Homo sapiens: one gene and its partners. The protein of the gene in region 2 purifies or fractionates together with the protein of the main gene of each other region. This does not show direct contact. Each region holds a gene or a part of one and is shown on either strand. Other genes may lie near its edges.

Region 1 (6,626 bases), on a different chromosome or scaffold from region 2:
GCCCGGGCCGTGGTGGGGCTGGTGTGGGGCTGACGCGGCGCTAACGCGGGTGTGTGCAGGGCTGTCCGGGGCTGGAGCCGCCTGGCGGGCGCCACGTATCGGGGTGTCTACGGCACCAGCCTCCTGCGCCACGCCAAGGTCGTCTGGGAGATGCTCAAGTTTGAAGTGGCGCTCAGGTGAGTGGCCGCGGGGCAGGTGGGTGGCGGGGGCCTGCTCCCCACCCACCTGTGACCTGTGACCTGACCCACGCAGGCTGGAGACCTTGGCCATGCGGCTGACCGCCCTCCTGGCTCGTGCTCTGGTCCACCTGAGCCTCGTGCCCCCAGCGGAGGAGCTCTACCAGTACCTGGAGACCTAGGGTGCAGCCGCCCAGGGCCGGCGGGGCCCTTTTCACCTTGGGCTGACGGAGGTGGCGGGGCTAGAGGTGTAGACACCCCGAGCCCCGTGGGCACTCGCACTGGGGGGCTGTGACAGCAGCTGGGCCAGGAGGCCGTGTAATGACCACACACTCCTCTCAAGCAAAAAATGTTTTTCCTTGTGTTTTGTACAAAAAGGGGGTGGGAGGTAGTTCCGTGTGCTGGTGGTGACGGCATCCACGGGGCTAGAAGTGGGCGGTGACGCGGTCCGTCTCCAGCAAGTCGTCCAGGATCTGCAGGGGATGGAAGGGTGGGTGGGTGGGTGGGTGGGGATGCACACGGAGGGGCGGGGCGCGCGGGGGGCGGGGCGCGCACTCACTATGTCTGGTGTGGTGCCGATCTTCTTGGCTAGCTCGCTGCGCTCCATGGTGCTCAGGTACAGGTAGCGGTTGAGCAGCTCCCCATCCAGCACGTTGCGCACGGCATTCTGGAGGGTGCGGCGGTCCACGTGCAGCATCCTGGGGCGTACAGGCACAGGTGTCAGGGCAGGCTGGGGTGGAGGGGGTGCTGCACGGGGGCGGGGCCGGGGCTCACCGGAAGGCGCGGGGGTTGAGGCCGGCGTGGTGTGGCAGCATGGTGGTCAGCGCGTTCTGCAGCATCAGCAGCCGCCGGTAGGTCTTCTCCTGCATGGGCAGCAGCAGCCCGATGCCGCCGTCCAGGGTGGCTGGCAGGGGTAGGGTGAGGGTTTTGGTGTGAGCCAGGCCAACCCTAGGGCCCCCCACCCAGACACACCTGCTCCCCCACACTCACCAAACCACGTGATGTGCTTATTCTCCCACACGACCGACTTTTTGCTGAGCCCTTCAGTGGCCCCCCGGCACGGGGTCCTCCAGAACGTGTTCACGTGGGCACCCACGTGGAAGTCTGCCCGACGCAGCAGGCGCATGCCCCCGAAACTCTCCTTGGCTAGACCAGAAAGGCCTAGGGGTCACTGCTAGCCCAGCCCCGGCCCAGGCAGAGGGGGTGGAGGAAGCACTCACCTTCGGGCAGGTACATGTACACCATGAGGTTGCGGTCGCGGTCAGACACTGGGGAGCAGAGGCCCAGGGTCAGCCCCGGCCACCCCCAGAGCCTCAGCTCCCCAGGGCCCTGCCCACATACCCAGAAAACCCAGCTGGGCATTGTCCACCATGAAGTCCACGCTGTACACCTCCAGGGGCTTGGCATCCTGGGGGCGGGAAGGGGGCGTCAGAGGTGCCTTGGGCGGGTACCCACCCAGACACGAGCACCGCCGCCACAGGTGTACCCGCGACACCAGGCTCAGCGTCTTGCTTTCCTCCTGGTAGCGCAGCAGCGAAATGCTCTTCATGACGTCGGCTGCCAGGATGAAGTTCTTGACGCTGATCATCTGGTGTATGTAGAGCTGCGTGTCGATGAAGGCCATGCCCGTCAGCTCGCTGGCCCGCAGGCTCCACAGGAAAATCTGGGGGCGAGGGCGAGGGTGAGCGGGCGCGGACGGGGAGCCGGGTGAGGGTGAGCCGGGGGACACACGCCGGGTGGGACTGGCACACCTTCTGGCCGATGGCCGACACCAGGTGGCCATTGCAGTGGCACAGGGCGGTCACGGGCCCCTTCTGCTCCTTCTCGTAAAGGACTTTGAACTTGTTCTTGGTCAAGGGCTGGCCAGGCTCGGGCACCACCTCAATCACATCCATGATCAAGATCTGGAGGGCATGGGTATGGCTGTGGGATGGCTGTGGGGATGGCAGAGGGGCTGCCAGTTCCCGCCCCCGCTCACTGGCCCCTTACCCGCCCTCGGCACGTGACCTCCTCCCCCTGCATGAGGCAGGTCCCGGCGGCCACGTAGCCTTTGAGGCCCGACACGGTCTCCTCACTGCGCAGAGACACTGTCTTCATGCAGGTCACATGCTCCCACTCCTGCAGCTCGATCCTGTGGGGGCCAGGGGCCTCAGGATGCTGCCTGGAGGCCTTGGGCAGACCCCACCCCCGCCGGCCCAGCCTCACCTGGCATTGGGAATAGCCTCCCAGCTGACCGGGGAGATGAGCTGGATGGAGAAGGCCTCCTGCTGGGGGTGGATGTACCGCTCATCTGTGGGGACCAAGGGTGACAGTCAGAGTAGGGCTTCCCCAAGATGCGGCTGAGGATGGGAGTATGGTGTGGGCGTCACCACCTCTCTCGATGGTCTCAAACTCCTTCTCCTCGCCAGTCATGCGTGGGATGCGGGCACACGGCGTGTTGGTGCTGGTGGCCACAGCATACACCTGTGGGTTAGTGAGGGTCACACACCAGTGGCCCGGCCAGGCCCAGAAGGTCCCTGGTGGGGTGGGGGTGGGGGCAGACCTTAGACTCCACGTGGTAAGCCACATAGTGGGCCGTGCAGCGCAGCGGGATCTTCCTGACAGGCCATGGGGCATCATAGGACAGGTAGGCAGGCAGGACACTGATCCTCAGCTCGCCCTGGGGTGGGGGCACAGGGGTCAGGGGATCCAGGGCTAGCCAAGGGCAGGGGCAGGCAGGCCCAGGCCGCCAAGAGCCCTGGGATGTTGCCCTCAGCTCTGTGGGAGCAGGGGTGGGTGAGGGGCAGCTGTGTCCTGGCGAGGTCCTGGAAGGGGCTGCCACTCAGCCTCTGGGGCTCCTCCTGTCCATTTTCCCACGCTCAGCTGGGGCTAGGGGTGCTGGCCACAGGGGATGGGAAAGCTAGGCCAGGAGGGCACTGGAGGCTGCAAAGGGCAGCCCACAGACTGCCATGCTGGGGACTGAAAACCAGGCAGAGGGAGCCAGGGCTGCCCTCTTTCATGGACAGTCCTGAGTCCTCAGGCACCCAGGAAGCACTCACCGCATCCCAGGCAGGGTCTCAAGTGACCTGGTGGTGTGGTGGCTTAAATAGGGAACCAGGATGAGAAAGCCTGTGTGCCCTCCCAAAGTCACAGAGCAGCCAAGGGGCAGAGCTAGCACTCACGTCAGCTCTCCTGAGAAGTGTGGAGGCCAGGCCCTGCGAGGGCTTGCCCGGCGAGCCGGCAGAGCAGTGGTGGGGACCCCAGGGGCTGCAGCCCCAGCTCCCAACCACCCCTTTCCAGACCTTTGGAGCAACCAAGTCACAGGTTCCACCTCCTCGACCTCAACCCCATCGCCCTCTGGACACTCCTTCCTGGTCCTCAGGGTGGAGCCAATGGTCCCTTCTCCTGTCCCCTCCCCCTCAGCCCCCAGCTGGGGCAGCATCAGCCAGTGCTGCTGGGAACCGGCCGGGCCCCACCTGTCTGTTGAAGTACAGGAAGCCGCGGGGACAGTTGACATTGTGGAATGGAGCGAAAGAGTCGACCGGGCCGTCGATGGCCATGGGGTGTAGCCGCAGAGCCCCTCGGCCGGTCACCAAGAGCCAGTGAGGGGAGGGGCCGCAGATGAAGACCTGGGGGCAGGCACCGTGAGGATGCTGTGGATGAGGATGCTGCGGATGAGGCCGCGTCTCCCTTCTACCACAGACCCCTGCAAAGGCGCTGGCCTACCCCTGAGTAGCCATAAATATCCTCGAAGTAGCGGAAACGCGCCACGCGGCCCCGGGCCCCAGCCCCCTCCTCTGCGCCGCCACCTTCTGCTTTCTTCTTGGATGGCTTTGGCTTCTTCTCACGGAAGTTGATGTTGTGAGGGACCTGGGGGGGAACCATGCAGGTCCTCCAGGGGCTGCCGGTCTGAAACCCACACCTTGTACCACACCCACCCCACGCCCCAGCAGTCCAGCCACTGGCACCTTCTTAAAGCGGACTTTGAGATTGCCCTGGCCGAGCTGAGAGTCGTGGGGGAAGGCCTCGTAGATAAGCAGCTCTTGGTCCACATGCACCTGGCAGGATGAGGGGAGCCATGGGGGAACGGGCAGGGCCATGGAGAACATGGGATGGGCCATGGGAAGAGGTGGGCTGTGGGTAAGGGGCGGGGCTGAGATGGGGTGGAGCCATGTATGGGAAGGGGCGGGGCTGTGAGGGAGATGGGGTGGAGCCACGGGAAGGGGCGGGGCCGTGGGGGAGATGGGGTGGAGCCACGGGAAGGGGCGGGGCTGTGGGGGAACGGGCAGGGCCAGGGGGAAGATGGGAAGGGGAGGCCAGGCCAGGCGCACTCACCAGCAGGTAGGGCCTGCTCTGGCGGCTGCCCAGCGCCACCAGCAGCACCTCCTTGACGAGGGGCAGCTCCCCCTGGCGCGTGGCCTCCTCCCTGCGGGCCTCGCCCTGTGTAGTGGGCTGTCCAAAGGAGCTGTCCACAAGGACCCGCTGCCCCACAGGGAAGTTCTTCACCAGGAACACCAGCCGCCAGTCGGGAAGCTGGTAGATCTGCAGGGTGGGCAGCAGTCAGTGGAGGCAGGTGGGTGGAACCCGCTGGGCCACAGTGCAGGGCACCACCTACCTCCATGGTGCCATTCTCCCGCACCAGCAGGCACCAGTGGGTAGGCTCTGCCCGGAAGGGTGCAGGGTCCCGGTCAGCAGGGGGCTGGCTGCTTCTTCGGGCCTCCTCCTTGCTGGGGCTGAAGAGGGAGCCCGAATCCCCATACAGCATCTCCTCCTCGTCATCCACTGTGGGGCTGGGGGCCAGCAGAAGGTCATGGGCGGCCTGCCAGCCCCAGGGACCCAAGCCCCTACCTGCGCCCCCAGCCCCCACGCACCTAGTCTCTGAGCCCAGGCCCTCGGCCTCCGGGCCACTGCGGCCCCCGAGCTCGTCACGGGCCCCACCCAGGCGGCTCTCAGTGGTGAACATGCCGCTGAGGTCTCGGTACAGGCACAGCGTAATCACCTTGGACTGCTGCGGGGAGAGGGGTGGGCTCAGCGGCGGGCAAGGGGCAGGGACAGGAGGGCGCCGGGAATGAGGGGGCCTACATGGTGCAGCGGGGGCTTGTGCAGCGCCAGGCGGTGGTGGCGGCCACCGTAGGAGTCACTCTTCAGCAGGAACATGGTGACGTGGCCCTCGGCACTCATGATGACCACATAGGGGTCGGCCACGGCGCACTGCACGATGGGGGCGCCCAGGTCCACGGGGATGAAGTGCAGCTGATTCACTGTAGGCATGGGGCAGTCAGCATGCGCCTCCCCACCACCGTCCCCACCCACCTACCTCCTTCCAGCAGGCGGATGCCCAGGGCCCAACCACCTCCCCCCCACCGTCCCCACCCACCTACCTCCTTCCAGCAGGCAGATGCCCAGGGCCCAACCACCCCCCCCACCTACCTCCTTCCAGCAGGCGGATGCCCAGTGGTGACACTTGGACAATGTAGCGGTTGTCCCCGATGTTCCCAGCAAAGACCGTGGGGCCCTGAGTGGCGAAGCCACTGGTGTCCAGCTCCATGATCTCCTGCCCCGTCTGCAGGATCTGCGGGCGACAGCTGTGAGGGAGGCGCCCCCCGCAGGGGACCCCAGCCCCAGGTCCCAGGTCCCAGGCCCTGCCCCTCACCATGGTGGAGTCTTCCCGGCTCAGAATCAGGAATCCGTGTCTGCGGCCGTCGTCGTCTGCTTCAGGGGTGGTGCTGGGTTCCTGCTCTGTGCCCTCCCCCTTGGGATTGTCCTCCTGTCAGGGCCAAAGGGGGGCAGGCTGGAAGCCACAGTCCAGTGAAGGCAGGCACGCAGGTGCGACCTGGGCACCCCCGGCCTATGAGAAGGCAGCGCCGGTCCCATCCCAGGGCCTCCCTGCAGCAGGCTCGCACCTACCTCCTCCTTACGCACCGGGGCGATGACTGTCCACATGTCATAGCAGCCGGGAAGCTCAAAGGTTGTCACCACCTGGGGCCGGATGCTCTTCTAGAATGATGATGGGGTGGGGGTGTGATGGGGGTGTGAGCCCACCCAGGTCCCACCAGGAGGCGCCCGCCCCCTACCTGCCCACACACCTGCAGCACCGACAAAGCCCCGTTCTTCCCGTGGCCGGAGCAAACCACAATCTCCAGGTCCGGCTCGGGGCTGTTCTGAAACTGCACAGGACTCGGGGGTGAGGACTATGCCCCCCACCCCCCCTCACACTCCAGCCCCTGCCCCCAGCCCCGACCCCAACCCTGGGCACCTCTTCAGAGAGGAAGGCAGGCTCGCCCACGGCGGCATTGGCACAGGGTCCAATGTTCAGGATGCTGTCACACACCTGCGGCACAGCAAGAGTCAGGGGCCCGCTGGGGGCGCTGGCTGGGACGGGGGCCCTGCTGCCTCAATCTCACCTCAAAGGAGTAGGTGGCCAGCTGTGTTCCCGACTGGGCCTCGCTGCCGTACACTTCAATCTCGTCC
Region 2 (7,563 bases):
TTCTCCTGTCTCAGCCTCCCAAGTAACTGGGATTATAGGCATGCACCACCATGCCCAGCTAAGTTTTGTATTTTTAGTAGAGATGGGGTTTCACCATGTTGGCCAGCCTGGTCTTGAACTCCTGACCTCAAGTGATCCACCCTCTTCGGCCTCCCAAAGTGCTGGGATTACAGTCATGAGCTACCATGACGAGCCACCATCTTCCTATCAATCTATCTATCCATCCATCCATGCATCTATCTATCTATCTATCTATCTATCTATCTATCTATCTATCTCCCTCCCTTCAACAAATCCATTCCCCCTCACCCCAAGTCTTACAGTGAAATTGCAGCCACAGTTACTCCCTTCCCCCATGCAGGCTCTCCCGCTGGTTGGTGGCTTCGGGTCCCCTCCCCAGAAAAAGAAAAGGGATGAGGTGAGAAGGTGATGGATTAGAGGGGTCCACAGAGTTTCCAAATCCCCCTATACCTCCACCCCCCATTTCTGCAACCCAGTCAGGCTCTCTGGTATTGCAGAGTAAGACAGACAGGGACCCCAGGGCCCTCCTTTCTGGCTCCCCACCCACCCGGAAGTCCTCCTTGAGGTCCGACCTCAAGCACTCCAGCTGCCCTAATCCACCCTAGGCTTTCCCACGCCCCGGGGCTGGGATGAACCCCTGGTGTCCGGGTCTGAGCCGGATCTCCCCTGACAGGGTGGGGCTGAGATTGGGGGGAAGCCCTTGGGGGACCCGCACCCCCACACCAGGAGACTGGAATTTCTCCTCTTTCATTTCCTTATTGTCTCTGGAGAAGGGTGTGACAGGGAGCAGAGGAAGGCAGTGTGAAGCCAGAAGCCAAGTTTCTAGTCCCAGACCCAACCCAGGACCCCAGTGTTCTGCGTGCGGGGCTTCAGAGTTAACCACCTCTAAAACAGGGGAGCAGCTGGACCAGCTGATCTGCAAGAACCTGAGGCCAACAGGGATATCCCAGGATGGTAACTTTCCAAGTTCTTTCCAGACAGCAAGCTGCCCTGAGTGTTAACGTCACCCCAAGCGGGAGGGTGCTATGGGCAAGAAGTGGTTTGGGGACCCTCTCAGCTCTCAGTTGCTGGCTGAGTGTAGGTATTTCTCTCCCCATTGTTCTGACCCAAGGGGAAGAGGTGGGCTTATCTGATGGGAAGGCTGGGGAGAGCCTCAGACAGTATCACCCAACCATTTCCATTCCTCCAAATACTGACTCTCCCAAAATATGCCCTGAAATGCTGATTACCTCCAGACTGTCCCTCTACTATTATTATTTTTTGAGATAGGGTCTCATTCTGTCACCCAGGCTGGAGTGCCGTGATACGATCACAGCTCCCGGCAGCTCGAACTCCCAGCCTCAAGTGATCCTCCCACCTCAGCCTCCCAACCAAGTAGCTTAGACTACAGGCATGCCTGACTAATTAAAAAAAAATTTTTTTTTTAAAGACAAGGTCTCCCTATGTTGCCCAGGCTGGCCTCAAACTCCTGGGCTCAAGAGATCCTCCCACTTCGACCTCCCAAAGTGCTGGGATTACAAGTGTGAGCCACTGTGCCGGCTTTCCTTCAATTTCTGACACAATTTCCATACAAATTGTCCCCTAAACTTGGATCTATTCAGACTGTGCCCCAAATATCAACTCCTCCTGCCTAGACCCCCATCATTTACTTAAGATGTGCCCCCAAAACAACTGTAGTTGGTTTGTACAATTGGTCTGTAGGTGGTTCCCTTAAATCAGGTCCCCAGACTGAGTTCTGCAGAGGTCCAGCTGGGATCACCCCCACTACCTGGAACCCTCCATTTCCCACCTGGGTCTCTGCCTTCCGCATCTCACAACTGATACCTCCAGCCACCCTGCCTCCACCTCTCAACACTCCCAGTCCCTTTCCCTGTTGGCCCTGCCCCACCCCACGTGCACCTCACACCTCCCCAAACCCAGGACTGGCCCTTCCCAGGCACCTTGCCCAGCCCTGAAGGCCTGGGGATCCAGGAGTCCCACCCTACAGTTTCGAGCCCCAGACCCAAGACTCAGGCACACTGGGGCCCCCGCAGTCACCAGATCTTGACTCCTTGGAGAACCTAGCCATTCCTGCCCCACACCCCACCTCAAGCCCACAGTCCCCTTCCAGGTTAGAAGTCCAAGTGTCCAGACCCCCATAATTCTCAGACCAAGAACCCAACCCCCAGCCCCAACAACCTCACAACGTTGATTACAGAGTGAGGTAGCTAAGGTGTAGGGGTCGTTGCAGCAAGACGAATGGGGGTCAGACTTGAGGAAGGACTTTCTGTCTGTCCAGGTGAGGGGATTAGAATATGCCGCCACCCCCCACTCCAGGGAAGCCTTGTCTGAGGTGAGACTGGATGGGAATTTTAGCAATAGCTGGAGGTTGCTGGACTGGCGGGGAGCAGGGGAAGGTGCACAATCTAAAACTCTCCATCTTCCGACTTGGGGAGTCCCTGCGGAGGGTCATGGGTAGGGATGGGGGGGTGGAGATCGGCCCCTCTCCTGCCAATGCTGATGGCTACATCTTCTGCTCCCAGATGCCCAACTCTAAGCCACCTGTTATTTCAGACTCCAAAAACGAAGCTTCATCTCTGAGCACCCCCATCTCTGACCCCTGAGCACCAATCCCTATGTCTGACCCTACCTTAGATTACCAGCTGATCCTTAGCCCCGAACCCCGGTTCTTTAACACTGTGTGCTGGCCCTGAGCTCCCACCTCAGTCTTCCCCTTAATGGTGACTCCTCCTCCATCTTTTAGTCTTTCTTTCCCTCCAACTTTGAACCTCACATCCTGAAACCCCCTAGTCTGTCCCCTACCCTGGAACTCTGATTCCTATCTTTGGTTTGTACATATAAATCCCTTGCTTTTTGGGGCTCCAACACCCGGCTCCCAAGTTTAAGGTGTGACCCGACCCTTGGCTAAATTTTCCTGACTTCCATTTTTAAGCCCTGGCCGCGGCGAGGCTGCCCAAACAGCGCTCCCATCCATGCCTCGTCCCCGGTCCCCGACTTCCACACCTGGTCTCCGTGTTCCCAGTTCCTCAGCTGCCCAAGTAGACGCCTTTGCCTCCATTTGAACCCACAACCAGTCCCTGCTCCATGTGAGCCCACACCCCGATACCTGCCCCCAACTTCCCGCTCCGCCATCCCCGAGGACACACCTCGCCCGCCTCCGGGTAGTAGCTCCACTCGGCCAGGTCATGGGCCTCCATCTTCACTGAGCCCAGCATCCCCCGGGCTTACGCCCCCACCCGCCCCCGCTCCGGCCCCGGGGGAACGGAGCGCTCTGGATCTCTCAGCGGGCACGGCCCGAGCTCCCACCGGCGCCCGCCCGTCCGACCGCCCGGGGTACGGCTGTCCCGAGCGCCGCGGGAGGCGGCCACGCTTTATAGCCGGGACACCCCCGCCCTCGCCCGCCCCGGGCTCCCCTCCCGCCTCCCCGAGGGCGGCGCGCTCGGACTGGGGCGCCCCCTGCGGGATCGCCAGGAGACAGACCTCAGGCGCCGGGGGCCGCAGCCCCAGGACGCGACAGCTGGGGGTGATTCAGGAGTGAGGGAGCTGCCCGCAGCGACGCTGCAGATACCAAGGGCCCCGAGGTCAGAACTCTGGAGCCTTTCTACCTCAGGGGGCTTCATCATCTCGGCAGGAGAGGACGAAGAGCCAGAGCCCTGCATGACCGTGGCGGAAGAAAGGGGAATCAGAACGCTAGGGCCACTATGCGACTACAAGGACCCGTAAAAGGTCCCCGAAATCACATCCCCATTGGACAGACAGGAAGACTGAGGCTTCCGACGGCTAGAAATGCTTAACTTGGCCGGGCGCGGTGGCTCACGCCTGTAATTCCAGCACTGCAGGAGGCCGAGGCGGGCGGACGAATCACTTGAGGTCAGGAGTTTGAGACCAGCCTGGCCAACAGGGTGAAACCCCATCTCTATTAAAAATACAACAACTAGCTAGGCGTGATGGTGCGTGCCTGTTATCCCAGCTATTCGGGAGGCTGAGGCAGGAGAATCGTTTGAACCTAGGAAGCGGAGGTTGCAGTGAGCCGAGATCGCGCCACTGCAGTCCAGCCTGGGAGAGAGAGCGGGACTCCGTTTCCAAAAAAAAAGAAAGAAAGAAAAGAAAAGAAAAAGAAATGCTTCAGACTGTTGAAAGGGTCAAGAACAAAGATGGAGGGGATCGGGGCCTCTCCGCAGACCCCACTAGGGCAACAGACCACCTCCCCTCCAAGACCCAGGAGCTTCGCTGCCCGAACTCCGCACTCTCCAAGACCAGCCAGCCGTCCAGGGACTCAGCACCACTGAGAACTCCATTTCCCAGAATGCTCTAGCTCCCTTTCCGCCCGGTGCCTCCGAAGGGACTACATTTCCCAGAAGGCCTAGCCGGACCCAGAGCCGGAAATGAAGGGTCTGCTCGCCGTAGTATGGAGGCGGGCAGAATGCCGCTCGCACGGGACGAGGCATGGGCGGGGTCGGGCTGTGCTCTGGACTCCATTTCCCGGCGGCCCTGGGTGTGTGGCGCGTGCGCACCGTTCCCGGCGACGAACGGAAGATGGCGGCGGCGGCGGCGGCGGAGTGTAGGAAGAGGCACTGCTGAGGGGGCGCGAGGGGAACGGAGGCCAGAGCTGCGGTGAGCGGGAGGCGGCGTTTGGGCCCGGAGACGAAAGGAGGAGGCTCCTAAAGAAGCAGGGGCTCGGGCGGGGAGGGCATCGCCGTGGGGAGAGGGGAACAGTGGCTTTCGCGACCCATGTTTCTTCCCTTGCTCAGGACCCTTCCTTGGCTCCCTAGTGCCCTCGAGGCAAAGTTCCAACGTGGCCCCCCGGGCGCCACCGCCCCGCAGACCTCGCTTGCTTCGACTCGGCCTCTTTGCTTTTTCCCCCACCTCTAACAGCCGCCCTGGCCTTTCGGTTCCTTAAACTTGCCATGCGCTTTCCCGCTTCGGGGATTTTGCACAGGCTGTCCCTTCTGCCTGCAACATCCTTTTACCCATTCGGCTTGGCTAACTCCCATTTCATCCTTCGGGTCTCGGCACCAACGTCACTTCCTCTGCGAAGCCCTCCTTCCCTGCCCTCCATCCAGAAATCCGCCTGTTAAATGCTTTTGTCGGTCCGTGTTCCTTCATGTCACGTGTGGTCTAATTTGTTATCCGACTCTTATCTGTGTGCTGTTTTATGATGTCTATGACCGTGTGTTCCATGAAGGTAGGGACTAGGTTTGTCTCTGTCGCCACTGTGTTCTCAGCACAGCGCCAATCACGCCGGAGACGCCCAGCTAATGTTCGTTGAAGGAATAAAAGATACTCCTAGAGCCAGTTTGGGGAAACAGGGTAGTCATCAGATTCCTAGGTAGCAGTGGGGCAGGGTACCACTTCTTAACGAGTACATCGAGAGGGAAGGGGAAACAGTGATACTGTTCATCATAGCAAAAGGCTACACGCATCCCAAATGTTCTTAAATAAGAAGATTGGCTGAAAGAAACTATAATACATCCACATAAAAAATACTATGCAACTCTAAAAAGGAATGAGGTAGATAAAAGGAAATGATGAAAATCTCTATACACTGATATAGTGGCCTCCAACATATATTAAGGGAAAACAAGTGAAGTGGAGGTTGGTGTTTATTGTATATGCTTTTTCTTTTTTTTTTTTTTTGAGACAGGGTCTCACTCTGTCGCCCAGGCTGGCACGATCCCAGTTCACTGCAACCTCCACCTCCCTGGTTCAAGTGATTCTCCCACCCCAGCCTCTCGAGTAGCTGGGATTACAAACGTGCCCCACCACACCCAGGTAATTTTTATATTTTTAGTAGAGACGGGGTTTCTCTGTGTTGGCCAGGCTGGTCTTGAACTCCTGACCTCAAGTGATCTGCCCACCTCAGCCTTCCAAAGTGCAGGGATTACAGGCCTGAGCCACCAAACTCGGCCTGTGTAGGCTCCTTTTTTTTTTTTTTGAGACAGAGTCTCACTCTGTCACCCAGGCTGGAGTGCAGTGGCGTGATCTCGGCTCACTGCAACCTCTGCCTTCCAGGTTCAAGCAATTCGCCTGCCTCAGCCTCCCAGGTAGCTGGGATTACAGGCACACCACCACGCCTGGCTAATTTTTGTATTTTTAGTAGAGATGGGGTTTCACCATGTTGGTCAGGCTGGTCTTGAACTCCTGACCTCGTGATCCACCTGCCTCCGCCTCCCGAAGTGCTGGGATTACAGGCGTGAGTCACCGCTCCCGGCCCTGTGTATGCTCTTTTTGTAAATGAAAGGGAAATATGTATATATGGGTTTTTTTATTTTCATTTTTTTTCCTTTTTTTGCATAAAATCTAGCTCCTGCAGGAGAATTTTGTGTATGTGTGTTTAAAAAAGAACAAAACAAAACTGAAAGCATAAACCAAAAAGCAGAAGAAGAATGAAACAGGGTAAAATATTTTGGTTGATCTGAATGTATTATCATGAAAAAAGTGGAAATGTTTATTATGGGGTTTTATTTTATTTTATTTTATTTTTTGAGGCAGAGTCTCATTCTGTCGCCCAGGCTGGAGTGCAGTGGTGTTGGGATTACAGGTGTGAGCCACCATGCCCGGCCTGTTTTTTTTATGTTTTGACTGGGGACGGCATGCCATGCCGGTTGTCTGGTGGCCAGGATCCTTGGCTTACGTAAACAGACCTGGGGGTAAAAAACAATTCCTTTCAGATAAACAGTACTGTAGCATAGTGGTAAGGAAGATATGCAGCCATGCTGCTGACTCTGCCTCTTACAAGCTATATGCCTTTGGTCAGGTCACTTTACCTCCCTGGTCTTCAGTTTCCTCATCTGTAAAATGAAAATTAAAAATACTAACTCCCAGCCTGGGCAACATGGCGAAACCCTTCTCTACAGAAAGTACAAAAATTAAATGGGGATTCGCCTGTAGTCTCAGCTACTTGGGAAAATGAGGTAGGAGGATCGCCTGAGCCCGGGAGGCAGAGATTGCGGTGAGCTGAGATTGCGGCACTGCACTCCAGCTTGGGCAACAGAGTGACACCCTGTCTCAAAAAAACAAAAAATGTAAACCTAACTCATGTATATTAATTCTAATATATACATATTAATTCATTTAAACCTTGGTGTCTGAGGTTTAAATGAGTTAATATGTATATCTTAGAATTGTGCTTAGCACATATTAAGTGTTCTCTCTCTCTCTTTCTCTTTCTCTCTCTGTGTGTGTGGGTTTTTTTTCTTTTTTTTTTTAATTTGAAACGCAGTTTCACTCTTGTTGCCCACGCTGGAGTGCAATGATGTGACCTCGGCTCACTGCAACCTCCTCCTCCCAAATTCAAGCGATTCTCCTGCCTCAGCCTCCCGAGTAGCTAGGATTACATGTGCCTGCCACCATGCCTGGCTAATTTTTTTGTATTTTTAGTAGAGATGAGGTTTCACCATGTTGGCCAGACTGGTCTCAAACTGCTAACCTCGGGTGATCCACCCGCCTTGGCCTCCCAAAGTGCTGGCATTATAGGCTTGAGCCACCGTGCCCGGCCGTGTTCAATATATATTAACTGATTATTTTTTCTTTTTTTTTTTT
Region 3 (7,021 bases), on a different chromosome or scaffold from region 2:
TAGTAAATGGGAATAATCTATTCCCAGTATCATCTCACAATGATAACCTATATAACATTAATCCACTTGAGAAGTGCTCTGAACTTCTTAGAGAAAAAGGGCATGCAGACAAGGAAAGGAGTGCACTGAGGTACATGGTCTAAAACCGGAGATAAAATCATAAGAGGGTCTGCATCAAATTCCAAGAGAATTCACATCTGCATTTGTGCTACTTATTTTTTGTGCCCTGGAGCAAACTGCAAGAATAAGTGATTTAGTGATATACTTTACAATTCAATGTCTAAAAGTTCCAAATGTATAAGCAGCTGTGAAAAATTTAGGACGTGACACTAGAGCATTGGTTCTCTGGCTGACGTTAGAATCACCTAGCAAACTCGAAAAGGAAAAGGCCAAGCTGCGCCTCCAGATTTTGATTCAACAGTTATTTTCAGCAGCTCCCTAAGTGAGTCTTATTTGCAGCCTGAGTTCAGAGCGGCTGCTCTGGAGTCTGGAAAGCCAGCGGCCCACCCACGTTGTCAGAAGTTCAAGGCTTCCCCAAAGATCTTTCCTAATTAACCCCTTTCACTCTTGCAGTCCACCCTGCTTAGGGGCTTACCTGTGAATTCTAAGACATCAGGGGGACATGAATATCAAATTGTGTTTTAATTTTAAACGAATGCAGCCACAAAGACACCTCTTCCCTAACCAGTTTTCTAAAGCAAACGGAATCCTATGGTGTCAGGGAATCACTTTTTGAGATGTTTATTTTACTCTTTTCTCAGTCTTTAAAAATTTTTTTTTCCTCAGTCTTGATAAAGAAAGTATTGTAATGGAGGTAGGAACTGCAATATTTAAAAGGAACAAGCGTTAACTGTATTTTTATCTTATGTTTCCGTGTTCTGACACTTTGCAAGTCTTAGGGAATTTTTTTTTTTAATAGTACTTGGTGGCACAAAGCTCTGTACTGATTTCTCTGGGGAGAAAAGCGCCACAGCCAGAGGGTACCTTCACGCCTGCGATCTCAATCATGAACATGGCGGCTCCTAGGACGTGACCTGCATGGTAACACCAAAACTTGATTCCCGCAACTTCCTTAACTTCATGAAAGTTGATAGTTTCAATTTTGTCCATGCTTTCTTCCAAATCTGTCTCGGTATACAGCATGTCGTCTGCTGATATGTTACTAAATTTTGAAAGATGCCAGCAAAAACAATTAAGAGTCAGATTTTTTAAAAAGCCTTTGAACACAAAGAAATTGTGGATAACATCTCCATGAAGATATTTCTTTAAAATATACTGTATGAATCATGTATTTAAAATTTCTCAGATATTTTGTGTATTTTTTTTTTACTCTATTGTGTGTATAGCTACAAAACTTGATTTTAAACAAACCACACAGGAAATTAAGACACTGAGCTCAAAGTACTCTCAATTTTCAATAATACATACAATAAATTAAGACAAAATACTCTTTAGGATAGTACTTCTCAAACTTTTTTCCCACCCCAACACTCCTGAAAGATATAACACACTCACATACATTGAACCATGGCAGATATTTCTCACATTAGGATGAGAAAAGATTTTTCTACAAAGTCTAGCACAACCTTTCTCCTGAAAATTATGTTAATGTACTTACAAAAAAGCAAGAGAGAACAGTGGTTAAGGACGCTGACTCTGGAGCCAGATTGTTTGGGTTCAAATCCTTGCTCTGTCTCTTACTGTGACGATTTTAGGCAAATAACCTAACCTCGCTGTGCCTCAGTTTCATCATCTATAAAATGGAATTTATAATAGAACCTACATCATGAGTTGGTGTGAAGATTAAATATATTTATCTCCCGGCTGGGTGCGGTGGCTCAACCCTGTAATCCCAGCACTCTGGGAGGCCAAGACAGACAGATCACCTGAGGTCAGGAGTTCAAGACCAGGCTGGCCAACATGGTAAAACCCCGTCTCTACTAAAAATACAAAAATTAGCCAGGCGTGGTGGTATGCACTGTGTGCCTGTAATCCTAGCTACTGGGGAGGCTGAGACATGAGAATTGCCTGAACCCGGGAGCAGAGGTTGCAGTGAGCTAAGATAGCGCCACTGCACTCCAGCCTGGTCAACAGCACAAGACTCCGTCTCAAAAAAAAAAGAAAAAAAAAAAGAAAAAAAAAATATGTATATTTATTTATCTTTGTGTGAAGTTAATATACATTAGGAATTTAGGATTGGGCCTAGTATGTGGTAAGCATTATTGAAGTGTTAACGAGTGTTACCACAATTAAGCATAACTCTTCCAATCCAGCCTAATGAAGTTTTAAAAGGACACAAAAAGCTATATAAAGACTTCAAGGCCAGGCCAGTGGCTCATGCCTGTAATCCCAGCACTCTGGGAGGCCAAGGCAGGAGGATCACTGGAGCCCAGGAGTTTGAGACTAGCCTGGGCAACATAAGACCCTATCTCTTCAAAAAACAAAAAACTCTGCTGGGTGTGGTGGCACACACCTGTAGTCTCAGCTGCTCAGGAGGCTGAGGTGGAAGGACTGCTTGAGCCCAGGTGGCTGAGGCTGCAGTGAGCTGTGATCACACCACTGCACTCCAGCCTGGATGACAGAGCAAGATCCTGTCTCAAAAAAACCTTCAAGGTCAGGAAGGTGCTAGAAACACAATAGGTTTCAATGACCTTGTTAATGAATGATGAAATTACTGATATCCTTATACATGAAAAGGGAGCACCTCATTTTAAAACACAAAATGGTCCATATCTTGAACCATACATGCCATATAGAGCCAAAGTCGTGTATAATCTAATAAAGTAATTTACCTAACTTTGACATAATCAGAAAGAAGCCATCTATAAATAGCTTTTGTGGCATGAGTCATAAATGTTCTTCCTTTGAAACTTGTCTTCTGTAGAAACCAGGGCAGAGCTCCACAGTGATCCAAATGGAAACTTAAAAAGAAAGAGGCTGCATTAATTCTTAAAATTATTATCCATCAGATACCATGTAATGAAACTGTTGCTTACTGTACAAAACAAGTTTTATATAAACAACTATGTGCTGATACTTTCAGAAAAACCAAGAGTAGGTATGTGTAGAAGGAAGAAGTAATGCATACAGTTCTAAAATGGAGGAAAGATGTTTAAAGTATTGTTTTTAAACAGCAAAAAACTTTATTAGTGAATTAGGGAGGAAGAAGAATATCCCAAGCCTACTCCTGGCAGCCAGAATTACAGCAAACATTTTAACAGAATAAAGTTGAAACATGGATATCTCCCTGAGGTCACTGTCTTGTCACATTTTTCTATATGAACTCTATTTAAAAATAGTTTCAATAAAGGTGAAATGGCGTTCTTATAGAAGAATGTGATAAAACAGTGACCTCAAGGAGATATCCTGGAAAAGGGCTTTCTTAGTCTCAAGTTTTACAATGATTCAAGTTCTGTACTATCTCCTTCTCACATACTCACTGAACTTATACATAGAGGTAGGTAAGTTTTTCATAGCAAACTTCTCTAGCCTGTGATGACATTACGGAGTGTTGGTTTAGACTCAGATGTCTGCAATATGCTTCCTAGCAGAAAACACTCTTTTAAAAAACCAAACTCTCAAAATCTAGTAAAGAATGATCTTGATAGTAAAAGTCCGTGAAAAAGTGTCATTAATAAAGGGAAAAACTTACTGACTAATTAATAGGAGATCAATCTCAGCTGGGTCAATTAAATCAATATAAGGAAGAGCATCCATTCCTTCTAGGCCAGGGTGGATCCCACAGTCGAGCTGAAAGAAACAGGAAAAGAGATCACAATCTCCTGCACATTTTATTAAAATTCATTCGGCAAATAGGCAATAATTCTAGTTCCATCACCCATATACTCAAGATGGACTCCAGGCACTAGCACTTGGAACATGATTCTTATTAAATGTGGCAAATATGCCATTAACAATTCTAACTTCCCAACAAATTTAAAATATAGCTCACATTTAGGGGTCACAGGATGCAAAGTACAAAACAGCTTCTTTCCAGCTACTTTTGGTCGTCATTCTAACAACGAATTAAATCTTTTTCAAAAACTTTGATATCAGATTAAAATTTTAAAAGTTTATAGATTTACTACTACCAGATCGACTCTCGTGAGAAGATAATAATTAGAAATGGGAAACTTACCTGATCAGGGTAATTTAAATATTTTAAGGCATTAGGGAACAAATTCTTAAGACTCAGTCATTAAAGTTACTTATTTTTATGGCGTTACTACCAAATTAACAAAACAGATGACTAAAAGGATGACTATGTCTGACCTATACATGTTCTTTTCAGATTGGGAGGAGTTGAGAAGAAAGAGGAATCAAAGGAATCTGAGACACAGAACTGACTTTCTAATGAGTACCTTAGAAACTATCTCCTCTAACCCCTCTACCTTTCAGGCTTAGAGAAGCAAAGTGACTTGGCCAAGGCCGGCAGCCCCAGTGGGACCTGGGGATCCAAGCTTCTAGGCCAAGGCTTGATCCCCACATGCTGGAGGCGGCTAGAGCTCTCAGTGTGTTCAGAGTGCTTGGGCCCTTGGGATCTTCCACTGGGGGTGGGGCAGTTAGGCTGGCTCAACCCTTCAGGAGTGGAAGAGGGACTTTGAAGAGGTAACAGTTCAACAGATCTAGCTGACAATTTTACAGTCATAGAATATATCTTCTTAATCAACTAAATTACTAAGTAGAAGTGTGTATTAGTTTTTCTCATTAACACTATACAGCATAGATTACATGTACTATAACATTTTTCTGGGAGCTAAAAAGATAACTAGTCTATGAGAAAAGACTAACACCCAATACAGACAGAGCCATACTATTAAACTGAGTACAAAAATAGTAATTACCATTATTTTTCTTCCTTTGAACTCGAGAATAATACATGATCTTCCTACTTCTTGCCCAGCTCCACTGTAAATATTCAAGGGGAGAAAAAGAAGGATTAAAAAAAATCAAAACCAAGTCCAATAAACTTACACTTTTTTACAATGTACACTACATGCCATCTGATGACAGCACCTCACTGAAAAATTCTGAGACGTAAGAGAGTTCTACAAAATCACAAAGACAGGGAAGAACAGTGTCCACATGAGAACAGATGAAAACTGATCCTTGGGAGTCCAGGGATCTTGCAGTTCTTAAAATTAAGAGAGAAGGCGGTACAGATCCAAGAAGCCCAAAGGTTTGGGCTTGATTTAAATTCAATTTTCTGAATTTTAGGATTAAATTATAATGTATTTAAAATGTAAACTAGCAGTTACGCAGATTATATAATAATACTTCTAGAATTAGCACTTAAGTAGAAAGCCATAAGCATTTCAACACTGTCATCTTCTTTAAGATCATAATGTGTATTTGCCAAATGGCTTAAATTTAAATGGCCGGGTGCGGTGGCTCACGCCTGTAATCCCAGCACTTTGGGAGGCCGAGGCAGGCAGATCACGAGATCAGGATATCGAGACCCATCCTGGCTAACACGGTGAAACCCCGTCTCTACTAAAAATACAAAAAATTAGCCAGGCGTGGTGGCGGACACCTGTAGTCCCAGCTACTCGGGAGGCTGAGGCAGGAGAATGGTGTGAACCCAGGAGGCGGAGCTTGCAGTGAGCTGAGATCGCGCCACTGCGCTCCAGCCTGGGCAACAGAGCGAGACTCTGCCTCAAAAAAAAAAAAAAAAAATTTTTTTTTTTAAAATACTTATTCATACTGTGAATTTCAATCACTTTTTCTTCTACTTTCTGTTATTTCAGCATATTTTATACCAACTACTTACATAATTTTTGTTTCTTCTTAATAATTTCAGCCATAATTTGCAATGGTCACAAGGCACACTTTAAGTTAAACCTCATCTTTCAAATCCCTCACCTTCTTTGATGCCTTTTCCCAACCATTCTAGCTCACAATCCACTCACTCACTCAACATTAAGCAGCTTCTATTTGCCAAGCACTGGATTAAGTGCCTAGGACATGGAAATGCCTTACAGGGACCCTGACCTCAAGGAACTCAGTCAGATGGACATGCAATGGATCTATCCCCAAACTGAGATCCTACCTCCAAACAGGTGTTGATACAGAAGATCAAACAACTGTGGATGAGAGCCGCCATAAATTCCTGGCCTTCCACTTTTTAAACATTTTTTATTTGTAATTATTGTGGATACCCTGGCCTTCCACTTTAACTGGCCCTCAATGTTGCCTGGCTGTTTTCTCCATTTCATTTCCATATCAACTATTTTCAAACTTTCTTCCCTTTCCCAAATTTTCCAACCTTCTATCCTCTTCTTCACTTGAGGCATGGGCCATCTTCTGCATCAAAAAAATAAACAGTCCATTTGTAAATTTCCTCAACTTCATGTTGGTACAATAATTAAGAATACATGTACCAACAGGGTACCAACCTGCCCACATCTGTCTCCTTCTATTTCTCCTCTATAGATAGAATAGACCTCTCTTTCCACAATGAAACTTTCCACCATTCTACTCTACGTACTCCCTCCCTCCTTCTGAGGAACTCAACACTGCTGTGTCATTGACATTTTCCTCACTGTCTGCTCTTTACCATCCAATCCAAATTTAAACATACTACAGCCATGTTCATCCCCAAATTAAAATCCCTTGACTCTAAGCTCCTTTAGTTCCCACTTTATTCTTTCCCCAGACCACCTCCCAGGGCAGTGGACCCTCTTGTACTTCCTCACCTTCTACTCGCTCCTCAATTCGCTATACTCTGGCTTTTACCAATCACTTTTCTGAAACTGTCCTTGCTGCTCAGTAGTCATTTCAGTCTTTTTTTTTTTTTTGAGACAAGGTCCCCCTATGTTGCCCAGTCTGGCCTTCAACTCCTGGGCTCAAGTGATCCTCCCGCCTCAGCCTCCCAAGTAGCTGGAACTATAGGTGTCAGTCCCTATCTTGTTCTCTTGGCAGCCGTTGTCACTCCTAAGGAGTACCTGCTCCTTCCTCAAGCACCTCTCCCTTGGCTTCTCTGACCTGATGCTCTCATCTTGTCTTGCTGGCTTTCCTGTTT
Region 4 (7,323 bases), on a different chromosome or scaffold from region 2:
CTGAGGCGGGTGGATCACTTGACATCAGGAGTTCAAGACCAGCCTGGCCAATATGGTGAAACCCCATCTCTACTAAAAATGCAAAAATTAGTCAGACATGGTGGCACGTGCCTGTAATCCCAGCTACCTGGGAGGCTGAGGCAGGAGAATCACTTGAACCCAGAGGCAGAGGTTGCAGTGAGCCAAGATCGCGTCACTGTGCTCCAGCCTGGGTAACAGAGCAAGACTCTGTCTCAAAAAAAAAGAAAAAAAAAATTCTGAAAGTACTTCTGGTCTCTCTCTTTAGAGGTTAGAGTTGCTTCTGCTCAGAAATACACAGTTCTGGGAACTGAGTCTCATGTGGATAGGATGAGTATGCCTTATGGGCAAAGTGACAGTTCTTCCCAAAACTCAGATGGGGATGAAGAGGAGGGATGGGTGAGGAAGGGCTGTGGCCTCACTAGGCTTTAACTGAACAGGATATGGACAAGCAGCGAGTGTGGAGGGTGCCTACCGACTCTGAAGCCCTGGCTGGAGCAACACCCATGGCTAGGTGTGTCCCGGGCCTCAGGAACAGGTATGTGGGCCCCTCGCCACTGTACCTCCCCTCACAGGCTTGTGGATGTGTCAGATGGCAGAAGGGTGGGAGGAAAAGAGCTGCCCTGCGTGGGTGGTTCCATGGTCTCAAGCTAGTGCCATCAAGACAGGAAAAGGCCGGCTGGGCACAGTGGCTTATGCCCGTAATCCCAGCACTTTGGGAGGCCGAGGCAGGTGGATCATTTAAGGTCAGGAGTTCAAGACCAGCCTGGCCAACATGGTGAAACCTCATCTCTACTAAAAATACAAAAATTAGTTGGGCGTGGTGGTGGGCGCCTATAATCCCAGCTACTCAGGAGGCCAAGGCAGCAGAACTGCTTGAACCTGGGAGGTGGAGGTTGCAGTGAGCCGAGATCGCACCATTGCACTCCAGCCTGGGTGACAAAAGCAAAACTCTGTCTCAAAAAAAAAAAAAAAAAAAAGACAGGAAAAGGCCACATGTGCAGGGATGATCACAAGAGTCGAGGGGTAGGTAAGAGGGGGTGTGTGTGTGTGAATTTGAGCAGCTGCTTTTTAGGGAGTGTACAGTGGTGATGGTGTTTGTGCCTGTGTCAAATAGGGTGGTCTGATGATGTCTCCTTATAAGCACTATCTTGTCTTCTTGAAGACTTAATTAATTTCCAATGAAACTATCTTGTACAGAACTATCACCATGTAAAGTTGTGGGACAGGCAGGAAAAAAAAAAAAAAAAAAATATATATATATATATATATGCCAGGTGCAGTGGCTCATGCCTATAATCCCAGTACTTCCGAAGGCCGAGGTAAAAGGATCACTTGAGCCCAGGAGTTCAAGACCAACCCTGGGAAACATGATGAAATAGTGTCTCTACCAAGAAATACACACAAAAAAATTTGCCAGGCGTGTTGGTGCATGCCTGTGGTCCCAGCTACTTGGGAGACTGAGGTGGGAGGATTGCTGGAGCCTGGGAAGTCGAGGCTGCATTGAGCCATGATTGCGTCACTGCACCCAGCCTGGGCGACAGAGGGGCCCCTGTCTCAAAAGCAAACAAACAACAACAACAAAAACACATAAAGGGACAGACTCAGAGGTCACATGTGCATGAGAAGGTGTGACCGCCTGAGGGGAGTGAGGCTGCTGGGAGCGGTGGGAGACCCCGCTGGTAGTTGTGGGCGACAGCACACAACACTGGAGAGCTTGCCCGCCTCTGCTATGCACTGAGTGATTGTCAGCAAGTCCCTTCCCCCGCTTGGGTCTCAGTTTCCCCATCTGTGGATTGAACTCAGTGACTTCCACAAGCCCCCAAACTTTAAGGTTATAGCATTAGATTTCAAGTATGTCCAGATAGGAAAGAAGACACAAAGAAAACTACTGGTTTCTTTTAAAGTACAAGATATCCCACCGAGTAGGAGGTGGGAAGCCAGGAGCCACCATATGAAGGGGAGCAGTGAAGGGAGTTCAGGCCAAGGGTCCACACCAGCTGCTGGGTGTGATGAATAACTCAGAGTTGGGGTCCAGAAAAAAGTAGGGACGGGCCAAAAACTAGGGATGAGCTCCCAGGAGAGTGAGTCCTAGAAGGGAGTTTGAGAGTCTAGCTGGGGTCTCCTACAGAAAGGTGGTCCTTCCCTCAGCACATCTCCTCCAACCGCCTAGTTTTGATGAAATCAAGAAGAGACGCTCAACGTAGCGGGTGTGATATCCTAGTACTCTCCTGCAGTTGGGAGAGTGTTGAGGGAGAGTTCCAATCCAGGATAACCCACCCTTATTCAAGAATTAAGCGAACAGACAAGGTCTACCCTCCTACAGATTACCTTTGAACAGCCGCAGAGGGCCAAAGATCCGAGGCAGTGAACTCCTGAGTCCGAGTGAGGGTAAAAGGAGTCCCCAGACGGTGGAAATGGGGGCCTGGGAGTCAGGAGTCCTGAAACCAAGGGGAGCGTCCCGGGATCCAGAAGAGGAGGTCTCAGGATGGAGTGGGAAGAGTCTCGGGACCACAGATGAGGGAGTTCGGTAACTAAAGGGGAGGATCCCAGGACCCGGAGGAGGTGGGAGGGACTCTCAAGACCTAGAGGGAGGAGTCCTGCGACCAAAGGGGAGGGGTCCCAGGATCCAGAGGAAGCCGGGGGAGGTCTCAGGACCGAGGCGAGGGAGTCCCGGGATCACAGAGGAGCGGGTCCCGGGTTCGAGTCGCTCTTGCCCTCCCGCCCGGGCCCCGCGCTCACTGTCCATGCCGGGGAAGGGCAGCGGCTGCGCCCCCAGCTGCTGCTCCACCGCGATCTCCAAGTCAAACTTGATGTGGTCCACGCTGGCGATGATTTCCTGCATGGCGGCGGCGGCGGCCCCACCGGCCCGGCTCCCCCTCGGTCTCCTGCAGCCTTCTCGCCTTTACCCGCCGCCGGCCCCGCCGCACACACTCCTCCTTCGCTTCGCCTCGCCGCCGCCGCCGCCGCCGCCCGAGGGATGCCGGGAGCGCCCGGAGCCCGCGCCGGCCCTTGCGCCTGTCCAGGCACTGCCAATCGAGACTCCGCCGTTCCGCTAGTCCCAGCTAGCCGCCAGCCGAACACCGGCCTCGCCAGAAACCTGAAACCAGCCGCGTGAGTCGGCGACGCGGATTGCGCCTGCGCGCTTGGGGAGAGGGGGACCCGAGGAAGAGACTGGTTCGCCGCGGGGACCGGGCAGGGCTCCCCGTCGGAGTGCACTGCGCCGGACACTTCAAGTGAGTTCCTGTGTGATCCTCGCAGGAGCCCCGGGACCCGGGCCAAGACACGCCAGAGGGGAAGGAAGTGCCCGAGCCGGGATTGGAGCCGGGGGCGTCTGAGGAGGGAAACTGAGGCTGCAGAAGTCCGTGTGGAGAGGGGTCGGCGTTGGCCTGAGGGTCCGGGTGGGCCTCTGAGGAGGGGCGGGTCTCTCCGAGGAAGGACGGCCGCAGCGTGTCTCTAATTCAGGGTTTTTTCTCGCTCTGTGGCCCAGGCTGGAGTACAGGGGTACGATCATAGCTCACTGCAGTCAACTTCTCAGACTCAAGCGATCCTCCCACCTCAGCCTCCCGAGTAGCTGGAACTACAGACGCTGCACCACCACACTTGGCTAATTTTTAAAATTTTATTTTTAATTTTTGTAGAGACGGCGGGGTTGGGGGGGCGGGTGGCGGGTCTTGCTATGTTGCCCAGGCTGGTCTCGAACTCCTGGCCCCAAGCCCAAAGCGATCCTCCTGCCTGGGCCTCCCAAAGTGCTGGAATTGCAGGCATGAGCCACTATACAGCCTAATTCAGGGTTTTTTTTAACCAGGGTGGGGTAATGAGCTTGTGTAGGAACAAAATGCACCCCTATTTTTCTCTATGTGAAGTATAGCATTTCCTTTCCTGATTGCTGGAGCAGCCTTAGCAGTGCCTGAAACTGTGAGGGTGAGTGTAAATGATAGTTCCAGATAACAGTTTGTGCAGGGCCAGGCATGGTGGCTCACACCTGTAACCTCAGCACTTTGGGAGTCTGAGGCGAGAGGATCACGTGAGGTCAGGAGTTCGAGACCAGCCTGGACAGGATGGCAAAACCCCGTCCCTACTGAAAATATAAAAATTGGCCTGGAGTAGTGGCGCGTTCCTGTAATCCCAGCTACTTGGGAGGCTGAGGCATGAGCATGGCTTAAACCCGGGAGGCAGAGGTTGCATTGAGCCGAGATTGTACCACCCCACTCCAGCCTGGTGACAGAGTGAGACGCAAAAAAACCCAGTTTGTGCAGCAACTACAAGGTGGTATCTTAAGCTGTCACTTACATTTATTACTGCTTTGAAATTATGATAGAGTCGGCCGGGCGCGGTGGCTCACGGCTGTAATCCCAGCACTTCGGGAGGCCGAGGCGGGCGGATCACAAGGTCAAAAGATCCAGACCATCCTGGCCAACATGGTGAAACCCTGTCTCTACTAAAAATACAAAAATTAGCTGGGCTTGGTGGCATGCGTCTGTAGTCCCAGCTCCAGGGGAGGCTGAGGCAGGAGAATCGCTTGAATCCGGGAGGCGGAAATTGCAGTGAGCCGAGGTCACGCCTGAGGACAGAGTGAGAGACTGTCTCAAAAAAAAAAAAAGAAAAGAAAAGAAATTATGATAGGGTCTTGTTATTTCATGCATTGAAAATAAGCATCTATACTAGTATAGCAGAAATTTGTTTTTAAAGCATTTTGATGCCATTTCAATATCATTGCTTTTTGTTTTGTAATTCTGTGTATTGTAATTAATGCACGTAAGGCAGGGCATGGAGGCTTACGCCTGCAATCCCAACACTTTGGGAGGCCAAGGCTGGAGGATTGCTTGAGGCCAGGAGTTCTAGACCAGCCTGGCAACATAGGGAGACTCCATCTCTACAAAAAAATACAAAAAATTAGACAGGTATGGTGGTGTGCACCAGTAGTGCTAGTTAATTGAGAGGCTGAGGTAGGAGGATCACTTGAGCCCAGGAGTTGGAGGTTGCAGTGATTGTGCATTTGCACTCCACTGTGCCATCGCACTCCAGCCTGGGCAACATGAAGACCCCATTCCACAAAAAAGAAAATTACATAAACACCATGCTTGTAAGAAGGAGTGGCAGGGCTTGCCAGATGCAGAATGATAAAGGCCCCCTGCACTAGTTTCACAAAAGGTGCTGGTCAGGACAATCATCAATGCGTTACATGGACCTGAGTTCAAAGCCAGCCCAGCCCAAGCTGGCCAGTCTCACCCACTGCACTGCTGCAGGACCCCAGCAAGTCTCTCCCCTTGCTGGGCCTAGTTTTTTGTTTGTTGTTGTTGTTGTTGTTTTGAGATGGAGTCTTGCTCTGTCGCTCAGGCTGGAGTGCAATGGCGCGATCTTGGCTCACTGCAACCTCTGCCTCCCACGTTCAAGTGATTCTCCTGCCTCAGCCTCCCAAGTAGCTGGGATTACAGGGGCACGCTGTCACGCCCAGCTAATTTTTATATTTTCGGCAGAGATAGGGTTCACCACGTCAGGCTGGTCTCGAACTCCTGACCTGAGGGGATCCACCCACCTTGGCCTCCCAAAGTGCTGGGATTACAGGCGTGAGCCACCGCTCCTGACCTACTGGGCCTAGTTTTTAATCTGTTCAATCTGCCATCACTTGTAAGACTTTTCCAATCGCAACCTTCTAATATAACCAGACTCTAAAATACTTTAGGCTGGGCATGGTGGCTCATTGCTGTAATCCCAGTGCTTTGGGAGGTCGAGGCGAGAGGATTGCTTGAGTCCAGGAGTTCAAGACCAGCCTGGGCACATAGCAAGACCCTGTCTCTACCAAAAAATAAAATTAGCCAGGCATAGTGGCTCACACCTGTAGTTCCAGCTACTCGGGAGGCTGAAATGGGAGGATCGCTTGAGCACAGGAGGGTGGGGCTGCAGTGAGCTATGTCTGACCTGAACCTAGGCTTTCTAACCTCTGGGCCCATACTTCTTATTTTATTTATTATTATTATTTTTTTTTTTTTCTGAGACAGAGTCTCACTGTCACTCAGGCTGGAGTGCAGTGGCGCGATCTCAGCTCACTGCAAGCTCCGTCTCCTGGGTTCAAGCGATTCTCCTACCTCAGTCTCCTCAGTAGCTGGGATTAGACGTGTAGCACCACACCCAGCTCATGTTTTTTGTATTTTTAGTAGAGATGGGGTGTCGCCAGGCTGGTCTTGAACTGATCTGCCCGCCTCGGCCTCCCAAAGTGCTGGGAGTGCAGGCATGAGCCACCGCCCCTGGCCTGTTCTTTTTCTTTCTTTCTTTTCTTTTTTTTTTCGAGACAGAGTCTCACTCTGTCACCCAGGTTGGAGTATGGTGGCGCAATCTCAGCTCACTGCAAGCTCCATCTCCCAGGTTCAGGTGATTCTCCTGCCTCAGCCTCCTGAGTAGCTGGGATTACAGGCGCACAGCACCAAGCCTGGCTAATTTTTGTATTTTTCATAGAGACGGGGTTTCACCATGTTGTCCAGGCTGGTCTCAAACTCCTGACCTCAAGTGATATGCCAGCCTCGACCTCCCAAAGTGCTGGGATTACAGGCATGAGCCACCGCGCCTGGCCTGGGCCCATACTTGTAACCACTTCTTTCTTTCTGCCTTTTGTTACTAGGAACTGAGTTGACTCTCTTATTTTTCCTGATATATTCCAGGCCCTGGAGGGACAGGAAAGCCAGAAATGGACTTCGTGAGACTCGCTCGACTGTTCGCCAGGGCCCGCCCCATGGGACTGTTCATCCTGCAACACCTGGACCCCTGTAGAGCCAGGTGGGCAGGAGGCAGGGAGGGGCTGATGCGGCCAATGTGGGCGCCCTTCAGCAGCTCCTCCTCTCAGCTGCCCCTCGGCCAGGAGCGTCAGGAAAACACGGGCAGCCTGGGCTCTGACCCGAGCCACTCCAACTCCACGGCCACGCAGGAAGAAGACGAGGAGGAGGAGGAGAGTTTTGGGACCCTCTCTGACAAATACTCCTCCCGGAGACTATTCCGCAAATCCGCAGCCCAGTTCCATAACCTGCGGTTTGGGGAACGGAGAGATGAGCAAATGGAACCGGAGCCCAAATTATGGCGAGGCCGGAGAAACACCCCGTACTGGTACTTCTTGCAGTGCAAACACCTGATCAAGGAAGGGAAGGTAAGGGGCACTTTGGGTTCTGTGGCTCCTGGCTTCTTTCCCCTGGTGGCTCAGTGTTTTGCAAGGGGTCACCTGACTTTCCCAGCCTCTAAGTTTTGGGCCTACCCTGTTGAACTGCCAGCCTTATGGCTGTAAGTATCGCAACCCTTTGCCATCCTCCACCGCAG

What was found.
Region 1: the proteins of SYMPK (region 2) and CPSF1 fractionate together in Homo sapiens (co-fractionation; 5 studies listed by BioGRID and IntAct, with this or other methods). This does not show direct contact.
Region 3: the proteins of SYMPK (region 2) and CPSF3 fractionate together in Homo sapiens (co-fractionation; 6 studies listed by BioGRID and IntAct, with this or other methods). This does not show direct contact.
Region 4: the proteins of SYMPK (region 2) and CPSF4 purify together in Homo sapiens (affinity purification with mass spectrometry; 5 studies listed by BioGRID and IntAct, with this or other methods). This does not show direct contact.

What each region holds. Positions count from the first base shown.
Region 1 is NC_000008.11:144,392,717-144,399,342, forward strand, and holds the end of CPSF1 (cleavage and polyadenylation specificity factor subunit 1), read right to left. Parts: coding exon 6,560-6,626; intron 6,487-6,559; coding exon 6,412-6,486; intron 6,323-6,411; coding exon 6,242-6,322; intron 6,153-6,241; coding exon 6,063-6,152; intron 5,923-6,062; coding exon 5,809-5,922; intron 5,728-5,808; coding exon 5,586-5,727; intron 5,515-5,585; exon of another isoform or gene 5,473-5,514; intron 5,417-5,472; coding exon 5,238-5,416; intron 5,164-5,237; coding exon 5,027-5,163; intron 4,946-5,026; coding exon 4,771-4,945; intron 4,698-4,770; coding exon 4,491-4,697; intron 4,214-4,490; coding exon 4,124-4,213; intron 4,026-4,123; coding exon 3,882-4,025; intron 3,785-3,881; coding exon 3,632-3,784; intron 2,836-3,631; coding exon 2,719-2,835; intron 2,640-2,718; coding exon 2,549-2,639; intron 2,467-2,548; coding exon 2,382-2,466; intron 2,308-2,381; coding exon 2,166-2,307; intron 2,081-2,165; coding exon 1,928-2,080; intron 1,840-1,927; coding exon 1,663-1,839; intron 1,585-1,662; and 14 more. Other genes in the region: ADCK5 (putative aarF domain-containing protein kinase 5), read left to right, coding at 60-176, 253-358. UniProt on the Homo sapiens protein: Component of the cleavage and polyadenylation specificity factor (CPSF) complex that plays a key role in pre-mRNA 3'-end formation, recognizing the AAUAAA signal sequence and interacting with poly(A) polymerase and other factors to bring about cleavage and poly(A) addition.
Region 2 is NC_000019.10:45,860,130-45,867,692, reverse strand, and holds the start of SYMPK (symplekin), read left to right. Parts: upstream 1-4,545; 5' UTR 4,546-4,635; intron 4,636-5,665; exon of another isoform or gene 5,666-5,793; intron 5,794-7,563. Other genes in the region: FOXA3 (hepatocyte nuclear factor 3-gamma), read right to left, coding at 3,168-3,236. UniProt on the Homo sapiens protein: Scaffold protein that functions as a component of a multimolecular complex involved in histone mRNA 3'-end processing. Specific component of the tight junction (TJ) plaque, but might not be an exclusively junctional component. May have a house-keeping rule.
Region 3 is NC_000002.12:9,426,652-9,433,672, reverse strand, and holds part of CPSF3 (cleavage and polyadenylation specificity factor subunit 3), read right to left. Parts: intron 4,909-7,021; coding exon 4,845-4,908; intron 3,751-4,844; coding exon 3,653-3,750; intron 2,922-3,652; coding exon 2,793-2,921; intron 1,163-2,792; coding exon 985-1,162; intron 1-984. UniProt on the Homo sapiens protein: Component of the cleavage and polyadenylation specificity factor (CPSF) complex that plays a key role in pre-mRNA 3'-end formation, recognizing the AAUAAA signal sequence and interacting with poly(A) polymerase and other factors to bring about cleavage and poly(A) addition.
Region 4 is NC_000007.14:99,434,623-99,441,945, reverse strand, and holds the start of CPSF4 (cleavage and polyadenylation specificity factor subunit 4), read right to left. Parts: upstream 3,004-7,323; 5' UTR 2,864-3,003; coding exon 2,761-2,863; intron 2,520-2,760; exon of another isoform or gene 2,350-2,519; intron 1-2,349. Other genes in the region: PTCD1 (pentatricopeptide repeat-containing protein 1, mitochondrial), read left to right, coding at 6,704-7,156; ATP5MF-PTCD1 (ATP5J2-PTCD1 fusion protein), read left to right, coding at 6,678-7,156. UniProt on the Homo sapiens protein: Component of the cleavage and polyadenylation specificity factor (CPSF) complex that play a key role in pre-mRNA 3'-end formation, recognizing the AAUAAA signal sequence and interacting with poly(A) polymerase and other factors to bring about cleavage and poly(A) addition.